2 separate regions of the Homo sapiens genome follow, and region 1 is linked to region 2. A link means that fine-mapping ties the variant in region 2 to the expression of a gene that starts in the linked region. Tissue or cell type: whole blood. Region 2 holds a variant in brackets; the other region holds the start of a gene. All regions are shown on one strand. Distances are between the middles of the regions.

Region 1 (8,000 bases), 220 kb before region 2:
CTGGGGGGAATTACTTAGGGCTCAAGAAAATTTTTATGTCACCAAACTATTCAGCCATTCCTCTTCTGAATCAAGATGTCTTAAGTGCTCAGCCCATCCTCAGATATTACAAACAGCAATACCCTTCCAACTCTCACATTTGAATATTTCTAAAAAGTTCAAATGGTAGCTCCCTGAGCTCACAATCCAGCAGAGAAAATGAACAGCTACAGTACCCTGGGAAGAGTGTCATTATAAGAGGAACCCCAAAGAGGCACAGAGGAAGAACTCCTAACTGACAAATCAGGGAGAGCTTCCAGAGACAGCGTCATTTCCACAGATACCAGAAGGCTCAGTAGGAGTCAGTGAGTAAAGAGGGGTGAGAGGAGAATGTGTTTTGGCAAGGACACAAAGGGAGCGGCAGCAGAGTTGAGCAGGTGTTGGGCTGGGAAGAACAGGAAAGAGCACGTGGGGATCAGTCTTTTCATGCCAGAGGAAACACGAAACCACTCCCTGAAGGACTTTAAGCAGATGCTCATCCTTGGAGATCATGTTGCCTGTGTGCTGGAGAATGGATCACAGGAGGGCAAGACTAGAAGTAGAAGGACAAAGCTAGCATGACCATCAAGGTGGGGAGGGATGGCATAGTTTAGGGAAACGGTAGTCATGATGACAGTGGCAGAACGATGCCAAAAGTAAACAGGAGAAAGGGACAACAGGATGGGGAAAACACATCCCAGGCTCCTGGCTGGACACTGGACAAGATACACATCTGGGGAGAAAGGGAACCCCATTTATGAACACTGTGTTTGAGGAACCTGCTGACCATTTCCTGGCCTTCTTCAGTAGGCAGCTGTCACAATGGCAGCAACAGCTCACAAGGACACAGTGCTTTACAGTAGTCCCTTCTTATCCGTGGTTTTTTTCACACTGTTACCTATAGTCTGAAAATATTAAATGTAAGACCCCAGAAATAAACAATTCATAAGTTTTAAATTGCATACCATTCTGCAGAGTGATGAAATCTTGCACCAGCCCACCCAGGACGTGAATTATCCCTCCTCTGCCCAGCATATCCACGCTGTAGACATTGCCAGCCCATTAGTCACTTAGTAGCGGTCAGTTACCAGGTTGACTGTTGCAGCATCACAGAGTTTGTGTTCAAGTAACCCTTAATTTACTTAATAATGGCCCCAAAGTCCAACAGTAGTGATGCTGGCATATTGTTATTATTGTTCTGTTTTATTATTAGTTATCATTGTTAATCTCTTACTGTGCTTAACATAAATTCAGCTTTATCATACATATGTATGCATAGGGAAAAAAAGTGTATAAAGGGTTCAGAACAATCTGCAGTTTCAGGCATCCTCTGGGGGTCTTAGAACATATTCCCCATGGGTAAATCGGGACTACTGTATTATGTAACAGTTATTGTTTAATGCTTTACATTTATTAACTCAAAAACCTCACAACTACCTTGTGAGATAAGAAGTATACCTTTTATCCTTATTTTATAGATGAAGATATAGAAGCACAAAAAAGCTACAAACATTGCCCTAAATCACACAGCCAGTAAGTGCCTGAGTCCACATTCAGTGCCTTCAGTTTGGCCTCAGTCTGTGCTCTTAACCAGGACCTGCTACTGCCTCACACACACACAGCAGTGAAACTGCGAAAACACTCGGATGGCTTGGGAACATCAAGCTTATGGGAATACATAACATCACCAGCAGCATGTCCTGAATGAAAAAGCAGAGGGGCTCAAGACAGATTCCAAGCTCATGCACAAGAGCCGCCCATGGGGCAGTGGGTGTGGGCAGAGAGGAAGGAGAAACCCTGGGAAACTGTGGAACCAAAAACAGTAGAGAAAGGACCCTCAGGAGGCAGTAAAGTGCAGCATCAAATGCGGCTGGACATCACAGAAGATGCGTGTGGTGTGATGGGCTTTATCTCACCTAGCTCATCGCATCTTATTTTTTGAGACGGAGTCTCGGTCTGTTACCCAGGCTGGAGAGTAGTGACATGATTTTGGCTCACTGCAACCTCTGCCTCCCGGGTTCAAGAGATTCTCCCGCCTCAGCCTCCTGACTAGCTGGGACTACAGGTGCGTACCAACACGCCCGGCTAATACTGTATTTTTAGTAGAGACGAGGTTTCACCATGTTGGCCAGGCTGGTCTCGAACTCCTGATCTCAGGTGATCCACCCGCCTCGGCCTCCCAAAGTGGTGGGATTACAGGTGTGAGCCACCATGCTCGGCCTGATTTTATTTTTTACAGCAAAGATTAGCCAACTGCAGCCTGCTTTTGTATGGCTAAACTAAAAGTCTTTTTCATATTTTTAGAAGGTTAAAAAATGTAAGAATATGGGACAGAGACAGAATGTGGCCCTTACAAAAAAGCCTGCAGGATGGCTTGTAACCTTGGCAAAAACAGATTCAGGGGAAAAAATGGGGACAAAAGCCAGACTGCAGGTTACTGTGGAACATAAAAATAATGAAGCACTAAAGCAGCTCTTTCATGACATCCAGCTATGAGACAAGAGCTTCGTGGGGACAAGAGCGGGGGAAGAAGTTTGCTGGTTGTACAGATGGAAGAGAGGTGAGCATTGCCCAACACAAACAGGAAGAAACAACAAGACAGAAGGATGAAAATACAGGAAAGGGAGGCTATGACTGAACGAGGCTCCCTTATAGGGAAGAAGGATACCAGATCCAGAACATAGACAAGAAAGGACACCTACTTTTGAGGTAACAGGAAGGCAGGAAAGGGTGGCTGCAGACAAACATCTAAGTCTGCAGCCATATAGGTGAGAAACATCCCAGTTATGGCTTCAGTTTTCTCCAAGTCATCTGCTGGTTGCAAGGCAGGAGTGGCAGGATCAGGGATTTAAGGAACAGGCTGAAGTCTCGAAATGTCTGTAGTGAAGGCAGTGTGTGCTGACTCAGTGTTTGCTCTACAGAATGCACAGCAGCCTCAAAGACCCAGTCAGTGTTAGAGACCACAAACCAGACTTGCATTCACGTGGCTGCCCACCACAAGCCACAAGCATTTTCCAGATAATGGAACATATCAACTCTGATGGACATTACAAATCCTGATGGACATTAGAAACTCTGATGGACACCTAAAATATCTTGTTGCTTTCTTGCCCTTTGAAAAGAACATATTTAGATAGTGGTTAAGCACAGGCATTGGAATCAGACCTGGGTTAGAACTCAAGCTTTGTCACTTACTAGCCATGTAACTTTTGCTGAAGGAATTAGAATATTAACCTCAGTGACCCATGGTAGAAAACAGGATATCACTATCTGCCTCAGTTATCATGAGGATTAAATTAAACCAGATTTATAAAATACAGTAGTCTAGTGAGTGGCAAGAGAAACGGCTCAGTAAATGATAACTACATCATCATCATTATTATGAGCAGCAGCAGTATTTTGCTACCTCAACATGACTGGTGCTGGCTTAGCTTAGTGGCAGAATGAAGCCCGGACAGATGTCAGGGCACTCCCACCTCCATACAACTTCCACTGTGTCACTAACCAAGTGACCCTGGCAGGATCCCCTGGATATCAAGTTTCCAGTCTGCAGAATGAGGGGACTGGACTGCACTACACAGTTCCCAAGGCTTTTCCCGTCTGCATCTAGGGCTAACAGTGCTCTGCACTGTGAAAATAGGAACTTTCAAGCAAGCACGTTCCTCGATGTACTACTTTGTGGTCAAAAAGACTTGAGTCTGAATCCTGTTCTTATTGAATGAAGATGAGTTCTTTAACACTTTTGAGACTCGGTTTCCTCATCTAGAAAAGAGTAAGCGAATCGCAACGAATGGTAGTGTGATGATTTAACACAGAGCACTCAGGGAGGAGCCGCTGGCTATCCCTCCTCTGCCGCACCTCCCAGGGTAAACGTGGGGACCAGCACCGCTCCCGGGCAGACCCGCGAGCGGCCCGCACGACGCCCGACCTGAGCCTTTGCTCAAAGCAGGGGGCCAGTCCTTATGTTTCTGAACACAAACAAATGGAGAACAAACTGGGACCTTATTAAAAAGGCAGGCTTTGGGGGTGTTACTGCATTGAAAAGCCCTATTTAGGCTTGGCCCTGAGAAATTTTTCTCTTGGGTCACGCATGTTCACGGTCCTCCCAGGCGAAGCCGCCCTGGGGACGAAAACCGATCACAGAGGCAAACTCAGGGGCGAATAAGGACCGCAGGACGCCAAGGAGGGGCGTGGAGCTGTGGGATCCGCGCGGCCCTTGGGTTGCCCTGCCTGCAGCGGGAATTTGTGTGCCTCCTCGCGGGCACTGAGCGGGGCGTCCCAGGGGGCGTTGGCTTCCACCCCCACCATTCCCCAGCCGGCCCCGCCGGTAACGGGCTTCGGCGACGGCACCCAAGCGGGTCCTCAGGAGCGGCCGCCGCGCCCGGGACGCCGCAGCCCCAGCCCAGGTGGGAGGTCGGAAATCGGCGCGGCCAGCTGGGCAGCGGCTCAGCGGGGCTGGGGGCGCGGGGTCAAGCCTGGCAGTCCGGCCCGGCGGAGGCGCGGCTGACAGGGCAGCCCCCCAGCCCGCCGGGCCTCACCTGGAAGTGCTCCTGAAAGCGAACAGGGAGGATCTGCGCCATGGCTGGTGCGGGACCTCGGCGGCGGCGGCGGCAGCGGCAGGAATGAACGCCGACCCCTCGCGCGGGCTGACCGGTGGCGACGGCGCAGGCGCAGTGCCCCGAGCTCCCGGTCCTGGCCCCCGCCCTCCTCCCTGACCGCGCCCCGGCCCGCACCCCCTTTCCCCGCCCCTTCCCCCGCCCCTGCCCCGCCCCTGCCCCGCCTCTGCCCCGCCCCTGCCCCCGCCCCTGCCCCCGCCCCTGCCCCCGCCTCTGCCCCGTCCCGCCTGCGCGGATCCCTCCGCCCGCTCCGAGGGTCCGCGGAAAGTAGTCCCGCGCGCCCTCTGCCCTGACGCGGTGTGTGCCAGCTACCCGAGTGAAAGGTTTTCGGGGGATTAATCCTGATGGGGTCTGCGGCGGCCCTTGCCCAGCGCCTTCCACATGTGGAGCGGGCCAGTGGTGCTAGTTCTGCCGCCAACTCTGGACGGTTGAGTTCAGGGCCACTTTTTACTCAGGCACGGATGTGACAGAAAGATGGAAAAGGGTCTTGGAAGAACCACATGTGCCGTATAACGAACGACCTTTTGGTCTGAGGAGGACCGTGTATATGACGGTGGTCCCATAACATGATAACGGAGCTGGAAACTTCCTGTCCTCTGGTGAGGGCTTAGCTAAGGACATTTCCTCTCCTGTATTTGGAGATACACGTACAGGTATGTCATTACCGTGCCAGGGGAATAACGCACCTCACACGCGGTGCGGGTTTGCGGCCTAGCAGCAGCGGACCGCATCAGCTGCCTAGTTGTGTAGTGGCTGTGCCATCTGAGTTTGTGTAAGTTACCTTGTGATGATCCCACAACCGAGACGCATGTCTCAGAATGCATGGATGCATGGGACGCGTGACTGTACGTGTTACAGACGTGTTTCGGCGTGAGGCTCGGCCCCTGCTCCTTTAGGAAACACCTTTCCTGGCTCATGCGGTTTCTAGAGAACACTGTGTCGGAATATCAATGTAGAGAGTCAGCGAAGGTCATCTAGCAGCAGATGACCAGCCCCAGGCCAGTGAGGATCACCCAGAGTGCCCGTGGCTGCACGACAGTAGTAGCAGGTGGAAGCTGGAGCCCACACCTGGTTTGCCCAGCAGCCAGTTGTTTTTCCGAGGCACCGTTGGCTGATGTTTTGCATACAGATGATTCAGCTGCATAAAAGATGTCTGTCAGGAAAGGGAAGCCCTTGGCATTCAGCACAGGCACTCCCTACGGGGTAATCGATAGCCGTCTCTGCTGCTTCCCATGTTGCTCACTGGTAATTTTAAGAAATGAACGGCCCACCTTGAATAAGACAAGGATGGTGCAATTATTTGCGCAATGGCTTGACCATCTAGTAGCCAAAAATATGTTAAGGAATAGAACAGACTGTTCACTTTCAAATTAAATCTCTTTTCCAGTATTAGCCAAGACCTCTGCAGCCCGCCCTTTCTAAAATCCATGTGGCCTCATCCGCTAAATATAGAGCTGGGTTTTGCTGTGGTTAGTACTACATTTCCCAAATCTCTTTATTTTGGCAATGATGCCTGTGACTCCAAGTACCCTTTACCCCAAACATTATATAAATTTTTTAGTAATTAATACCATCACTCCCTAAATCACCTTCCCCAGGGCTTTTTGGGGATTAAAACTAAAATTTTATACCCTAAAAGAAAGAATTTAAGAAAATCATAGTTAAGCAAAGTGACAGGATTGTTAATACGTCGGGACCTCAAGTGGGGATTAAGTTTCAACATTAATTTTAGAGGAGACACAAATCTTTCTGTCTCTTCAAACCATAGAAGAGACAGAAAGCACAACAGTTATTTGAATAGACAGAAGTGAATATAAGTGATAGTTGTAGTTAACAGGAAATAAAGTTGTTAATATACTTGTAAAAAAATTAAATGTTCTGACTTGAAAGGGACTTTAATATTCTCACCACTTGTAGGTAACTTGCTAAGTAACCCTAAAAAAACCTTTCAATTCTTTTTTTTTTTTTTTTTTTTTTGAGACAAGAGTCTCGCTCTGTCGCCCAGGCTGGTGTGCAGTGGCACGATCTCTGCTCACTGCAACCTCTGCCTCTCAGGTTCCAGCCATTCTCCTGCCTCAGCCTCCCAAGTAGCTGGGACTACAGGCGCACGCCACCGCACCTGGCTAATTTTTCATTTTTAGTAGAGACAGGGTCTCACCATGTTGACCAGGCTGGTCTCAAACTCCTGGCCTCAGGTGATCCATCCACCTCGGCCTTCCAAAGTGCTGGGATTACAGGTGTGAGCCACCGCGCCTGGCCCGGGATTAAGTTTCAACATTAATTTTGAAGGGGACACAAACCTTCAAACCACAGAAGAGAGAGAAAGTGCATCAGTTATTTAAACAAAGGGAACTGAATATAAACAATAGTTAACAGGAAGTAAATTTAAAATAATAAAAAGAAAATCCCAAGATATGGAGTTACAAACATAGGACACAGCTACCACCCCTAGAGCTCAAAGATGAAAGAGAAGCTGGAATTATTACAGCTTAAAGGAAGGGCTTGCAGAGCTGGAATTCAGATCTCTGAGGAGGTGTGTTGACCAGCTGGGGCTGGGGTCATTGAGCCCAGAGGAGAGATCCCATGGGGATGGGACTCAGACCTCTGAGGAGGGTCCCTACGGGACTTAGACACACACTATGGATGAGGGGTGGCTGTGGAGCTGGGAGTAAGCCCTCTAAAGAGGGCACTGGGAGACTCTCACCCAGATCTCTAAGGAGAAGGCATACTGAGGCTGGTTCTGCAAGTCTTGGAAAAACTTAAACTGGATTCAGCTTCTGTGGGAAGAATGTGCTGCTGCCTTGTTGAAGAAGCCTAGCTGGGGTGATGCTCACAGGAAGTGGCCCTGTGGTCTCCCTCTATCAACCTATCAGCTTAGTCTAATAGGGAATATTAGATCAGATCTTCTTTATTTGCCAATGAGAAATATGTTTTTTAGAGTCTCAGCCCTGGCATCAGAAGCAGTGTCTAGAGGTGGGAAGGGAGAATAGAGCTGAAAGACATTATTTAATAACTGGTACAAGAAACGACATGTTATAGCTAAATTCCAATTCCCATGGGACTTTCCTATAGGTGGAATTGAAAAGTCTGTGGAGGCGTATAATCGCAGCGCTTTGGGAGGCTGAGGTAGGAGGATTGCTTGAGCCCAGGAGTTCAAGACCAGCCTGGTCAACCCCATCTCTTCAAAAAAATTTAAAAATTAACAGGGCATGGTGATGCATGTCTATAGGCCTAGTTGGGAGGCTGCAACAGGAGGATCACTTGAGCCCATGAGCTCAAGGTTACAGTAAGCTATGATCGTACCACTATACTCCAGCCTGGGCAACAGAGAAAGACCCTGTCTTTAAAAAAGAAAAAGTCACTGGA
Region 2 (8,000 bases):
GATGCATATGTATATATGGGGGCCTGCTTTCTGGGATTTCCTGGTTCTGCTCCCAAGCACACTTTTTTTTCCACTGCTTTATTGAGATACAATTTGCATGCCATACAATTCACCCATTTAAAATGTACAATGTGATGGCTTTTATTTATTTTATTGTTATTTTTTTAGAGACAGGGTCTCGCTCTGTTGCCCAGGGTGGAATGCAATGGCATGATCATAGCTCACAGCAGCCTTGACCTCCCAGTCTCAAGCAATCTTCCTACCTCAGCCTCTTGAGTAGCTGGGACAACAGGTGCATGCCACCACGCCTTGCTAATTTTAAAAATTTTTGTAAAGATGTATCACTATGTGGCCCAGACTGGTCTCAAATTCCTAGGCTCAAGCAATCCTTTCACCTCAGCCTCCCAAAGTGCTGGGAGGAACAGGCATGAGCCACTGTGCCCAGCCTGCAATGACTTTTAGTAGGTTGCAGTTAGGTTTTGCAAGGTTGTGCAGCAATCACCACTATCTAATTTTAGAGCATTTTTGTTGCCCCAGAGAGATCCTCCCAGCCTCTGGCAACCACCAGTCTCCCTTTTGTCTTTATGAATTGGCTGTTCTGAGCATTTCATACAAATGGGATCATATAAGATATGGTTCTTTGTGACCGGGTTCTTCACTTAGCATCATATTTGCAAGGCTCATCTATATTGTAGGATGTATCGGGATTATATGTCTTTTCCCTCGTCCGCCACCTGAGACAGAGTCTCACTCTCGCTCAGGCTGTAGTCCAGTGGCACGCTCTCGGCTCACTGCAACCTTCGCCTCCTGGGTTCAAGCAATTCTCCTGCCTCAGCCTACCGAGTAGCTGGGATTACAAACGCATGCCACCAAGCCTGGCTAATTTTTGTAGTTTTAATAGAGACGGGGTTTCACCGTGTTGTTCAGGCTGGTCTTGAACTCCTGACCTCTTGATCCACCTGCCTCGGCCTCCCAAAGTGCTGGGATTACAGGCATCAGCCACCATGCCCGGCCAGTGTCTTTTTATTATAAATAATATTCCATTGGATGGATATATTCTATTTCATTTATCCATTCATAAGTTGATGGGCATGTGGTTTGTTTCCACCTATTGACAATTATGACTAATGCTGCTGTGAACTTGCATGTACAAGTTTTTGTGTAGTCATGTCTTTGTTTCTTTTGGTTATATACCTACATGTGGAAATGCTGGGTGACATGGTAACACTAGGTTTCAAGGAACTGCCAGATTTTTGAGGAACTGCCAGACTTTTCCACAGCAGCTGCACCATTTTACATTCCCACCAGGAGGGAGGGTTTCAATTTCTTCACATCCTCACCGACACTTGTTATTGTCCATCTTTTGGATTACATTCATCCTAGTGAGTATGAAGTGGTATCTCGTTATGGTTTTGATTTGCATTTTACTGATGACTAATAGTGTTGAGCATCTTCTCATGTGCTTATTGGTCATTTGTGTATCTTGTTAGGAGAATTGTCTATTCAAGTCCTTTGTCTTTTTTTTTTTTTTTTTTTGAGACAGGGTGTCACTCTGTTGCTCAAGCTGGAGTGCAGTGGTGCAGTCATGGCTCACTGCAGCCTCAAACTCCTTGGCTCAAGCCATCCTCCCACCTCAGCCTCCTGAATAGGTGGGATTACAGGCATGAGCTACCACACCTGCTAATTTTTAAATTTTTAGTAGAGATGAGATCTTACCATGTTGCTCAGGCTGGTCTCAAACTCCTGGGCTCAAGCAGTCTTCCAGCCTTGGCCTCCCAAAGCACTGGGATTATAGGTATGAACCACCGTGCCCAGCCTAAAACTTTTATATATTCTACATACAAATCCCTTATCAGATAAGTAATTTGCAAGTATTTTCTCCCATTCTGTAGGCTGACTTTTCACTTTGGCAGTGTCCTGTGAAGTATAAGATTTGTTAATTTTGATGACATTTAAGTTACCTACTTTTTCTTTTGTTTCTTGTGCTTTTGGTGTCATATCTAAGAAACCATTGCCTAACCCAAGGTCATGAAGATTTCACATTATTTTTTCTACTAACACTTTAATAGTTTTAGCCCTTACATTAGGAGTATGATTCACTGGAGGTTTTTTTTTTTTTTTTTTTTGAGACAGGGTCTTACTCTGTCACTTAAGCTGGCATGCAGTGGCATGATTTCCACTCACTGCAACCTCTGCCTCCCAGGTAGCTGGGACTACAGGCATGTGCCACTGCACCTGGCTAATTTTTGTATTTTTTGTAGAGACATGTTGGTCAGGCTGGGCCCCTTACTCTTTACTATAGTCTCCTTACACTTCAGCAAGGCCCCTTGCTCTTTACCATGCCCCCTTATACTTTACCAGGCTCCCTTGCTGTTTAACAGGACCCCTTGCTCATTACCAGGACTCCTTGCACTCCAGGGAGGCTCCTTAAACTTTCCCTTGGCCCACTGCACTCACCTGCTCTTGCATAGGGCAAAACTCTCAGTTTGGGCCGCTGCTCTCCAGTTGCCTGGAGTTTTAAGTCTTCTTAGGTCTCACTACCTCTTGGCTTTCTCTCGCACTGATGTAGATAGTATACCTGTCTGGCTGTTCATGGTCTCTTTTTACCTGCTTACACTTTGGGGTTTGAAGTGTTCCCTTGTTCTCTTAATTTGTTGCAAATGTGGGTCCTAGGTTTTTGGTTTTGCAATCTAGTTGCTCTACTTTTATCTAGAAATTTGGGAAAATCCAAAAACTATTTTACCACTGTTGCTGCCATCATCCCAGCATTGATGGGTAGGCTTTAGACATTGTCTACCAACTTCCTGCTATGACAAAGGAGCATTTATCCCACTCTTGTCCACCTTCCCTCCTGTTGGTACAGTTTTGCCACTATTTTTAACTTCTTTGTAACTTTAACATATTTATGTCTTCTTTCATCACTAGTATCTCGTCTCCCTACTTTGTAAGAAAAGGATATTTAAAACACTCTTAGTCCATTTTGTGTTGCTATAAAGGAATACCTGAGGCTGAGTAATTTATAAAGAGAAAAGGTTTATTTGCCTCATAATTCTGATGGCTGGAATGCTCAAGATTGGGCATCTGCATCTGGTGAGGGCCTCAGGCTGCTTCCACTCATGGCAGAAGGGGAGCTGGTGGGTGCAGAGACCATGTGGCAATGGAGGAAGGAAGAGAGAGGAGGAAGGTACTAGGCTCTTTTTAACAACCGTCACGGGAACTAATAGAGTAAGAACTCACTTACACCCCCTAGCCCCAGGGAGAGCATTCATCTATTCATGAGGGGTCTGCACCCATGACCCAACACTTCCCACTAGACCCCACCTCGAAGATCTTGGATCAGATTTCAACATGAGGTTTTGAGGGGACAAATGTCCAAGGTGTAGAAACAGCCTTACTTTGCTCTTCAGTGCTGCTCAGTACTTTCTGAAATTTGTGCTTTTACGTTTTCAAGACTGATAACAATCTTGGGTTAGAGAAAAAGATATAAATTGTCTTATCTTTGGTTACAGGTTGATTTTAAAAGTTGAAAGTAAACAAATAGTTTTACTTTATTGTGCTAATAAACTATTCCAGAGACAATCATGTGTAGTAATAGATTACTATCTGGCACGGCTCTTTGTTTTTCCTGCTGTTTTTAATTGCCTCCTTTATCACATCCATTTTTTTCTCCTCCAAACTCCTTCCAGCTGTTTTTCTGTGAGCCCCTTTTTGCTGGAGAGTCTGGGGTTCTGTCTTCCCACCACAGCCTGGACCTACAGCTCTCTAGACCTGCTTTCCACTGTCCCCATGGATGTCCAAATCTTGGCTGTGCCTCTTAGTTTAGTCCAATGTTTCTTGGGATCTTCATCTTTGTTTCATTTACTCCCTCATTAAATTAGAGCACAGTTCTTAAGTAACATTCAAAGAAAGGGCGCATGTGAGATAAACTTTCTGAGTTCTTATATATCTGACAATATCTTTATTTTACTATTTCTTTACTATTCCCCCCACAGAAAACATCCGTGTTTTTTATTCTTGCTTTTCAGGCTTCCTGGAATGACGATGCTCTGTCTTATTTTTTTGCCTTACATTTTCCATAGCTTTGTCTTGTTATCTATGTTGAGGAAGTTTTTCTTGACTCCAGACTTGGAGTGGATGTTTTATCTTTTGCAACTGTTTTAATTTCCATCAACATTTCCTAGTTTTTAACTCTTCCTTTTTCATAGCATCCTGTTCTTGGTTTAGGAATGTAAGAGTTGCACACATCTCTCTGAAGATACTAATTAGAGTTCAGTTTAACTTTCTTTAGTTCTCCAAATTATCTGTTTCTTCAGGGTTATTTTTTTAGGCCATAGGCATTTCTCAAATGGTCTGATGTCTTTCATATTCAAGAACGGGATTGTGGACCCTT[G/A]GCTGGGCCATGGGTATCTGGGCACAGCTCACTGGTCATAAGACATCGTTTCACCTTAGCAGGCAGGAGCCAACTGTGACACTTTGGGACTCCCCACTGTAGGGCCCAGAGGCTTTGCTTGAGGATTCTACTTATTCACAGATGGTACATTTCATATACTCAGAGGGGAGCCTCCCTTTTTGTGGGGAAGAGTAAAAATCTATCTGTTGGGTTTGAGGGGATCCCTTGTCCAACCTCCAGCCCTTGCCCAAGCCTCCCCTGTGTCAGAGTCCTCCTGGGCCTTCAGGATCTTCCCTTTGTTGGCTTTTAGTTTCCTGTCTTCTGATACTTGCACCCGCTCCACCTCTCATTTGCATTACTGTGGGTTTATACATTTTAAAAAATTCTTTCCTTTCATGTGAAAGACAACTCAGGAGGGAAAGAAGATAAATTCTTACCCCCAAACCTCTTCCTGAACCAGGAACCAAGCAAACTATTTGTGACTTTGGTATTTTACCAAGAGTTCCTGACAAGCACCACCAAAGCCATGTGTCTGCCCTGTTACAGGAGTAACCTGGACAAGCTGTACCATGGCCTGGAACTCGCCAAGAAGCAGCTGCGAGCCACCCAGCAGACCATTGCCAGCTGCCTTTGCACCAACCTCGTCATCTCCCAGGGGCCTTTCCTGTACTGCTCTCTCATGGAGGTCAGGCTTCCCACAGAGCACAGGCGCCTGGTCACAGCACCAGTGGCTTCGTCTGACCATCTGTCTCGCCTCCGCAGGGCACTCCAGATGTCATGCTGTTCTCTAGGCCGGCATCCCTAAGCCTGCTCAGCAAACACCTGCTCAAGTCCTTTGTGTGTTCGGTGAGGGGCCAGGCGGGTGCTGTGGGTACAGGAGGGCAGGTGCTTGGAGAGCTCCCTGGATGGGGAGTTAGATGCTGGCCTTGGGGTGCCTGTGGCTGTTGACCAGCTGCAAGGTCTAGGCACATCCATTACTTTTTCTGAGCTGTCTTTTTCTCAGCTGACCCCTAGGAACCTTCCAGTTCTCTCAAGCTCTGATTCATCACTGGCTGTCTAAGTCACTCAGACAAGTAGGGAGGGGCCCTTGCAGAGTGAACAGGGCTGGGGCTTGTGTCCTATTGTTGCAGGTCAGGGAAAGCGGGATGGTTGTAGCACCGACTGGCTTCCCAGCAACAGCTTGTCCACTAAGCTGATTTCCTGTGCCTGGCTTTGTCTTCTGTGTGGCCTAACCCCCTCTTTGCGTTGGCGTGGAACACACTCCTAACTTGGCTGGCTTTAGGGCAGGGGTCCTCACCTAGCCGACATGGGGCTCCTCCCAGATGTGACATGTCAATAATTGAAGTCCTCCTCTGCTTCGAGGATGAGAGTTTATGCCGGGGGCTATTTCAAACAAAATGTGCTAACAGGAAGTTGAACTTTTCTTTTGCCGCTGAACTAACCAGTAAAATGATGACAGATGACATGTGTTCTATCAACCAGGTAATGTCAAAGATAAACTAGGGACAGAGCATGGGCCTTGACGTCCTCTAGGCTGTGTTCAAAGATGAGCCTCCTCATTTGCCAGTTGTGTGACGTGAGGTAGATGATCTGACCTGATCCTCAGTTTCCTCATCCGTGAAATGGGTGAACACATACCCACTTTACAGGATCCATTCATTTACCAGACATGTATTGAACATCCACCACCTGCCCGGCCCTGTTGTGGAGTGACTGCCCATCCTGGTGCACATCCTGGGACACCCCTCAGTCCTAGACACACCAGGAATACTGGTCACCTGGGCTGTAGGGTGTGGGTGCAGCAGGCACAGCAGAGAAGGAAACCCTAAACCTTTATCCTGAAGGAGCGTGCCGGCGGGGGGGACGAGGAGTGGCAGCTGCGGTTAAGATGAGGGGATGTGCTGCCAGGGGATGGAGCAGGATGAGGCGGGGTGGGCTGGGGCCTCCTGGAGAAGGTGGCAGCTGCTGCAGGACCTGAAGGAGGTGAGGGAGAGGATAGCAGGGCAGGCTCCTTGCAACAAACAGCCAAGGGGCAGTGGGGCTAGGCTGGTAGACAAGGAGGCTCGGGGACACAGCATCACAGCCACAGTACCATGCTGTGGGTACGGGAGGGCAGGTGTTTGGAGAGCTCCCTGGACTGGGAGTTAGACACTGGCCTTGGGCATCTAACTTGGGGTGGCTGGGTGGGGACCAAGGCGTCTCCTGGTGACAGCGTCCCTGGAGGCTTTGGGGAGTGGAGTGACTGGGCGCTGTTGGGCTCTGGGCTCTGAGTGTTGAGCTGGGGCCCACCATACCCTGACGGAGGGTGCTCTCCGACTCCATAGACAAAGAACCGGCGCTGCAAACTGCTGCCCCTGGTGATGGCTGCCCCCCTGAGCATGGAGCATGGCACAGTGACCGTGGTGGGCATCCCCCCAGAGACCGACAGCTCGGACAGGAAGAAGTGAGCAGCTTCCACTCGTCCTGGGACTGGAGGGTCGGGGGTGTTGGGGTTATCAGCTTATTAGCCCTGCTGAGTAGAGTGGTATTTGCCTCTAGTGTCTGTCCTGGGGCGGGGGGTGGGAAGGGTCCATTGCAGGCCGCCTGGCCCCCGACATGTCTTGTGTGTCAGCAGCTTTTTTGGGAGGGCGTTTGAGAAGGCAGCGGAAAGCACCAGCTCCCGGATGCTGCACAACCATTTTGACCTCTCAGGTGAGAGTCTCCTGCCACTCTGCCACACTTTCCCACCTGACCCTTTGAGGCTATTGCAGGCCCTGGAACCAAGCAAGTTGGCATGGCTGGAGGAGCCTGGCCAGCAGCCCTCTTGACCTTCCAGATCTGGCCCTGGGACAGGCTACTCCTGGTGGCTCAGGGAGCTCTGGTGAACCTCAGGCCCCTGAGAGGGAAAAAGTGTTTTCCAGGGAATGACTGGCCTGGCTGTGGCCTTACAGCGGCCTTACAGCCAGTGCTAAGGATCACTTTCCCAGCAAGCCTAGGGGACTGGCCACCAGGGCCCGTGTGCCCCGATCTCACCTGTCAGGGTTGGGTTGTTTCTGTTTCATGGGGTGAGGGAACAGCAGGGCCCGTGATGACCCAGGACACCAACCCTTGCTGCGCCAGCCACCTCTCCACAGGCCGGGGTGTGTGTCGTGATAGGTGCTACCTGTGAGATGGCTGGGACACCGGCCCCACCTGTGTGTCAGATGAGCCCAGAATGGATAGGCCTGCCTGCCCACTGCTTCCCCAGCACCAGCACGGAACATGGTTCACATTCGGCTGTGTTGGCGTTCTTATTATTGTTGACAGGTTTTAAAGTAAAACAGACGTATTGATATTTCACCCCGGGTTAGTTTGCTAAAGCTGCCATAACAAAGTGCCACAGACAGGGTGGCTTCAACCACGTGTCTCCTCCCAGTCCTAGAGGCGAGAAGGCCCAGGTCAAGGTGGGGCAGGGCTGGCTTCTCCTCAGGCCTCTCTCCTTGGCTCACACAGATGACCACCTTCTCACTGTGTCCTCACGTGGTCTTTCCTCTGCATACCTCCTTGGTGTCTGTGTCCAAACCGTTTCATCTTCCAAGGACACCAGACAGATTGGATTAGAGCCCACCCTAACAACCACATTTGAACTTAA

Evidence for each region. PIP is the estimated chance that this variant, and not a neighbour inherited with it, causes the effect.
Region 1: it holds the start of CLTCL1, and the variant in region 2 is fine-mapped to the expression of CLTCL1 in whole blood (TOPMed, PIP 0.98).

The regions. Positions count from the first base shown.
Region 1 is chr22:19,287,044-19,295,043 of GRCh38, forward strand. CLTCL1 (clathrin heavy chain like 1) reads right to left here and starts at 4,676. Exons shown (of 33, transcript NM_007098.4): 1 at 4,557-4,676. The coding sequence starts at 4,598. LOC105372859 (a long non-coding RNA gene) reads left to right here and starts at 4,904. Exons shown (of 6, transcript XR_938002.3): 1 at 4,904-5,287. RefSeq lists an enhancer at 3,865-4,378 and silencers at 4,489-4,673, 4,555-4,794.
Region 2 is chr22:19,509,813-19,517,812 of GRCh38, forward strand. It overlaps CDC45 (cell division cycle 45), which reads left to right. Exons shown (of 19, transcript NM_003504.5): 14 at 4,937-5,075; 15 at 5,153-5,236; 16 at 6,715-6,833; 17 at 7,005-7,081. Among named protein-coding and RNA genes, the nearest start is that of CLDN5, 11 kb to the right of the region's middle. RefSeq lists enhancers at 4,671-5,171, 5,172-5,672. The variant G/A (reference allele first, on the strand shown) is at 4,391.